Regions from separate parts of the Homo sapiens genome. Here region 2 is reported to be linked to region 1. The links are microRNA targets in miRTarBase. Many come from high-throughput screens and were not tested one by one. Region 1 holds a microRNA gene; the other region holds the end of a gene's coding sequence.

Region 1 (3,151 bases):
TCAATTTCTGGCAAGGAAATCTAATAGGTCATACTAATGTGCCTTGATACAGAAATGTAATTTTTTTTTTTTTTTTTTTTGAGACAGAGTCTCGCTCTGTCGCCCAGGTTGGAGTGCAGTGGCGCAATCTTGGCTCACTGCAACCTCCGCCTCCTGAGTTCACTCCATTCTCCTGCCTTAGCCTCCTGAGTAGCTGGGACTACAGGTGCCCGCCACCATGCCCAGCTAATTTTTTGTATTTTTAGTAGAGACAGGGTTTCACCGTGTTAGCCACGATGGTCTCGATCCCCTGACCTCATGATCCGCCTGCCTCAGCCTCCCAAAGTGCTGGGATTACAGGCGTAAGCCACTGCGCCCGGCCCAGAAATGTAATTTAATCAAACTGAGATATACAGACTTCTCTTTCTGAGGATACCTGAGGGGATATGTGCCAGTCAAGACCTTGGAAATAGCATTTTAATAATTTTTGTTGTTAAAGTTATCCCACATTTAATTATAAATTTGGTTCATCTGATTTGTTTTGTGTTACTGGGTGAATGAGGAAGATAACTGGCCTTGATTTTTCACCCTGAAGAATTACATTTGTTCTTATTCTTTTTATGGAAAAGGATTATCTGTTTCCAGGGATCACCGAGAATTAGAGTTGGGTACAGCTCAAAAGTTTCATGGCAACCTCAGCCTAAGCCATAGTTGATTCTAAATTTCAATATTATTTAGGGCAGATGAATGTGAAACACTTACAGAAGGAATGAGGAAGGGCGATTAAATGTGATAATCTGGGGAGTTGAAGTTTGAGGAGGGCCTGGCAGGAGATCGTCCTCTTTTAGACTGTTTGGAATTTGATGGAGTAGCACCCACAAAGAGAGTGGGAGGAGCTTTCAGAGGGAAAATATTTTGGGTTCAGCTTCTAACACCCAAACTCCCTTGGCTGCAATTTTTTAAAAAACCAAGTAGCACTGAAGGAGCGCAGTAAGTAGCAAGCGAATCCAATAAAGGCAAATTAATTCCCAAGGCTGGTTTCCTTTCCAGCACAACAGCACTTTAGAAAAAGACTTTACTAAGATTAAAAGAGGTTGAGCATGAAACAGTAACCATCGAAACTTTTCCCCCCGTCTTGGTCATGAAATAGAAATTTGGTGTTTAATTTTGGTTGCCATGCAAGTCTTTTGATTCGTGAGGGCTAGGAAATTGCTCTGTTTAGCATAATCCCAGAGACCACTGTGAGGGATTGTATGAACATCTCACAGTTGCCAGCTGAGATTAAGCCAACTCACAGCCATCCGTGTTAGACCTGCAAGAGAAAGTGTATGAGCAGAGGCACGTGGCTGCCTCAGGTGGAAGCACATCTTCATACATCGAGTGCACCAGCAGAAGCCCTGATGTACCCCTCTGCATTTTTCTTGAGGCGACATTATCAAGCTACTCCTCTTGCTGAATTCACAGATTTCTGGCATATGCTATATTGCATGTAATGTCATAAAAGTATAATCTTTGCATTTAGAAAGGATTTACTCTAATCCATATATAGTAAGAAACAGCCAAGTAGGAGTACAGGTGAATGTAAAACCAATCACTAAAAATGATTTTTTAAACAAGCTTTATAGAGAACTTGGAAACATCAAAGCCAAACACTCTAAAATTTGTCCTCAGACAAGAAAACCAGCAATTACGTTGAAAAAGTAATGACCGTATACTCACCAAATGGCCAGATGTGTCAATAGCGGTGGCTATTACCTTTCATAGATGGTGGTATGTCCTCCCCTCTTGCCCACATCACTGTCATGGCTAAGTGAGACTGAGCCATGATCTAAGCCCCTCAGTCCACTGGGTGGGGCTAATCAATGGTAAGAATAATGATTAAGAACGGAAGGAAGAGGAAACGCCCTCAGAGTTTCCCCACCATCTGCCGTGGATGGCATCTCAACTTGAGTGAGTGTAAGAAGCACATAGGAAACTTGTTACAAATGTAGATCCCCAGGACCTACCTCTATATTTTGATTCAGTAGGTCTGGTTTTGGTGGCTGCGATTTGCACTTCGGTGGAGATTTTCCACTGCCTTTCTCCAGCTTCACTTCATACTAGACCATTTCTTCCTCTACATTGTAGACTCCAGCTCTAACAAGTTCTGAGAATCCAATGAGCTGTGTTTGCCCATACTTGGAATTATTTCTTCTTTCTCTCTCCCTCCTCTCTCTCTCTTTCACACACACACACACACACACACACACACACACCCCCTTGTGTGACAGTCACACATTGAAAACTATCACACACTGCCTTCTCTCCCCAGTCTCCCTTTTTTGGCACCTGTAATACACAATGGTGTTTTCTCACTCACATGCTTTCTCCTTCATTGACTGCAAACTTCCAAGTGTTGGCACTGTGCTTATTCATCTCTATATCCTCAACTATACTATTCTCAGTTTAGCATCTGATGTTTAATAAGTGCTCAAAAAAATTTTGTCAAACTAAATCAAATGTTTGTTGAAGCAAAGAATTATGGATTTCAGCTCATAACTTGTCCTTTAATAATTGAGACTTGACACAATTAAGAGAGTGGTAATTTACAGAGTTAGAAAAGTGGCTTTTCGTTTTAAAAGTCAGGTAAATATAAAGTTACAAAACAATTGAGAAAGAACAATTGAATATAATCTTGTGCCTCATATGGACTCCTAAGTACAAAGCTACTTTTGTAAAATAAGAATGTCTCATCATTAGGATTTAACTTTTTAAATATTGTTCTAAGTTTATTTTCTGGAGTCAAATTGCTCAGGATTAAAAATAAGCAGATTTTATCTTAATCAAAAAACAAGGGCTTCTCAGAGCAACATGAATGACGTTCAGTTTTTTCTTTTCTCTTAATCTTATATTTGATTTTCCTTTCTCTCTAGAAAGTTTAATAGTGAAAAGTTACCATAGAGAAGTGACAGGAGTATGTAGTTCTTCTTCCCTCTGCTAGAAAACATTAAGAAAAGATCATAAATGGGAACATCATATGCTGATGTGGAAGATGAGACAGCTTTTTATTAATCTTAAGTTGTCATGTCCACAACTGCACAGGGAGGTGGGCTCTCAATGGAAGCAAAGACATATACGTTTCTGCCTTGCCTACCTTAGTGGGTTGCTGTGATGGGCATTTAAAAAAGAAAAA
Region 2 (3,000 bases), not on the chromosome of region 1:
CAAGGTCAGAGGGCTCAGGGGATCCTGATTTAAGTTGGGTCAAGGAGAGTCTGCAGTGCACTTTTCTGTATGTGAGCTATACTCAAACGCAACTCTCTGGAGAAGACAAGTCAGCCTGGTCCCCTTTCATCCATCACCACACCCTGGGACACAGCACCATCCCATCCTGACTCCAGAGGGTTCAACAAGGGTCCCCGCTAGTCCTCCATGCCCCTGCACCTCTCACCATGAGATCACCATATCCCAATGTGTGTGGGGGAGCTTTACTTCTCTAAATGCTCTTTCAGGGCCACTCTTCCCTTCTTCACTCCGTGCCTCCATTACCTATCTACTCATTCCTCTCTCAGGACTGGCTGCCCACCCTTCCCATGACACAGCTATCAGAGGCATACCAAGGTTGGCTGCCTCATGGGAGACAGCAAGTGCCATGGAGGCCACAGCTGATGCCAGACAAAAGAGAACACACACAGAGAAGGAGGCATGGCTGCTTGAAGCTCCCCACGAGCTGGCCTGAGGGTCCGGACCTCAGAATACCAGCACCATGGAGACACCAGGTCACACACACATGAACCTTGATCCAGCTAATACAATGGGCCTGGCTGACCCCAGTCCTGGACTGACTCATCACTAATCTTCACTATCGTCACACCTGTCCCTTCTCCCAGGAGAGGAAATTGTCTAGAGGCAAAATCCCAAGGGGATCCACTCATGGGGCTTCAAGGCTGTGTCATCCACCTTGACTGGCTTTCACTCGGCCAGTACTGCACTGCCTCGGAAGGGCCACTCCAAAGTCATCCCAAATTTTCTACAGGCTTCCTGTTCTCCATTCTCTGGGACTCACTCTCTCTTCTACACTGACAACCCCTTATAACCCAAGTCCCAAAGAAGGAAGTTATTCTCATGCCCTGGGCTTTGGGATGCTGATTCCAGAGACGCTACTGCCCAATGCCCCTCCATCCACACTTACAGCTTCCCTGTTGCCCTGATCCAGTCCCTACTACTAAAGGTCCAAAGAAACCCCAAATTAACCTCCTTTTGGCTTCACTTTTTAATTTATTACCAAATTATTATGCCAACAAGTATCTGTAACAGAGAAAAAAATATGATACAAAATTCCAGTCCCCAAAGAAAACCACATTTTATTTCTCCATCATCCACTTTCAACATACATCCATATGTGCACATATTTTTACATGGCTGGAATAATAGTAAATCTTCTATTTGATGCCCCTTTTTGCCATATTATAAACATTTTCAACATGGCAATAAAACCTTTATAATGGTTCACAGTGGCTGAATTAGAAGCATCCTAAATGAACAACCATGGAGGTAGTGGTGGGGTGATAACATAAACATAACAACTCAGTATTTTTGCTTCAACAACTAAAGCAACAAACCACATCTGTTAGAAGCAGCCCTTTCCATCTTAGCACAAGCTTGTTTCAGTCTTTTTTTTTGAAATGGAGTCTCGCTCTGTCACCCAGGCTGGAGTGCAGTGGTGCGATCTTAGCTCACTGCAACCTCCACCTCCCAGGTTCAAGCAATTCTCCTGCCTCAGCTTCCCAAGTAGCTGGGATTACAGGCACACACTACTATGCCCAGATAATTTCCTGTATTTTTGGTAGAGATGGGGTTTCACCATGCTGGCCAGGCTGGTCTTGAACTCCTAACCTTGTGATCTGGCCGCCTCGGCCTCCCAAAGTGCTAGGATTACAGGCGTGAGCCACCACATCTGGCCTGCTTGTTTCAGTCTTAAGAGGAACGACTTCATTGTTCATTCACAGGTAATTTATTCACCTAGTTTGCCCTCCTGCAACGAGTCCTCAGCATTATTGCAGGAGTATAATGCAGACATACATTCAAACAGGAAAATCTCACACATTCTGTGGTGTGTGCAGTACAGCACTGTGTGGACTCTCTCATTGTACACCTTTGTTGTTACAGAAAACACAGTAAGAGCCCCTGCCAAAGCCTCTCTTTCTGATTACACTTAAAAAAGGTTGATTCAGGCCAGGCAGTGTCTCATGCCTGTAATCCCAACACTTTGGGAGGCTGAGGTGGGCGGATCATGAGGTCAGGAGTTCAAGACCAGCCTGGCCAACACAGTGAAACCCTGTCTCTACTAAAAATAGAAAAAATTAGCCAGGCATGGTGGCAGGCACCTGTAATCCTAGCTACTTTGGAGGCTGAGGCAGGAGAACTGCTTGAACCTGGGAGGCAGAGGTTGCTGTGAGTGGAGATCATGCCACTGCACAGTGAGACTCTGTCCGAAAAAAAAAAAAAAGTTGATTCAGTGTTTGCTTACGTACAAGGTGGAAACTCCCTACTACAGGGCTCTTCATTCCAATCATGTTCTGAATGCATTCACAGGTTCTCTCTGTGGTGTCACCCCCATGTTTGCACATTTCATTCCAGTGTGTGTGTTGTCATGTCTGGTACAGACTGAATCATCCCCAAAGACTTTTCTGCCCTCATCCTAAGTTGTCTCTGGAGTTCCCCAATGAGCAGACTTAACAGTGTGGCTCAGCAATGTCTCACATTCATCAATTCACTGGATAGCTTAAAGGATTCTTTTCTACTGACCAGAGAGGAGTCAGATCTAAGACACGCCTCCTAAACACAGGAGTGAGAGTGAACTGGAAGACTCATGTGGCCCCCAACCATTATGTTTCCATGGGTTGCTCTCCCAGGTGTGCTCTTTGATGTCGAACAAGGGATGAGCTCTTTTGGAACATTTTTCCACACTGAGGACACCGGCTGGGACCCTCCCTGCTATGGAGTCTCTGATGTACTGCCAGGTGAGAGTTCTGCTTGAAGGACTTCCCACATTCTGGACACTGATATGGGGTCTCCTTAGTGTGAATTCTCTGGTGCTTGGTCAGACAGGAGCTGTCCCTGAAGGCTTTGCCACACTGATTACACTCATAGGGCTTCTCACCAGTATGAGTCCTCTGGTGCCTAATGAGGCCAGCGATATTCCTGAAAAGTTTCTGACACTGG

The links. Region 1 holds the annotated microRNA hsa-miR-216a-3p (UCACAGUGGUCUCUGGGAUUAU, at 1,203-1,224, opposite strand). A microRNA usually pairs through its seed, bases 2 to 8, with sites in the 3' UTR of a target mRNA and lowers its output. Matches are read on the target gene's strand: a 7mer-m8 pairs with bases 2 to 8, a 7mer-A1 pairs with bases 2 to 7 and ends in A, and an 8mer does both.
Region 2: miRTarBase lists ZNF329 as a target of hsa-miR-216a-3p. Seed matches in the 3' UTR shown: 7mer-m8 at 2,252-2,258, 7mer-m8 at 2,102-2,108 and 8mer at 1,285-1,292.

The regions. Positions count from the first base shown.
Region 1 is chr2:55,987,779-55,990,929 of GRCh38, forward strand. It overlaps MIR216A (microRNA 216a), which reads right to left and starts at 1,281; the gene lies at 1,172-1,281. The region is part of intron 2 of MIR217HG (MIR217 host gene); the gene reads right to left. The region is part of intron 3 of LOC105374690 (a long non-coding RNA gene); the gene reads left to right.
Region 2 is chr19:58,125,215-58,128,214 of GRCh38, forward strand. It overlaps ZNF329 (zinc finger protein 329), which reads right to left. Exons shown (of 4, transcript NM_024620.4): 4 at 1,034-3,000. The coding sequence ends at 2,664. Among named protein-coding and RNA genes, the nearest start is that of ZNF329, 24 kb to the right of the region's middle.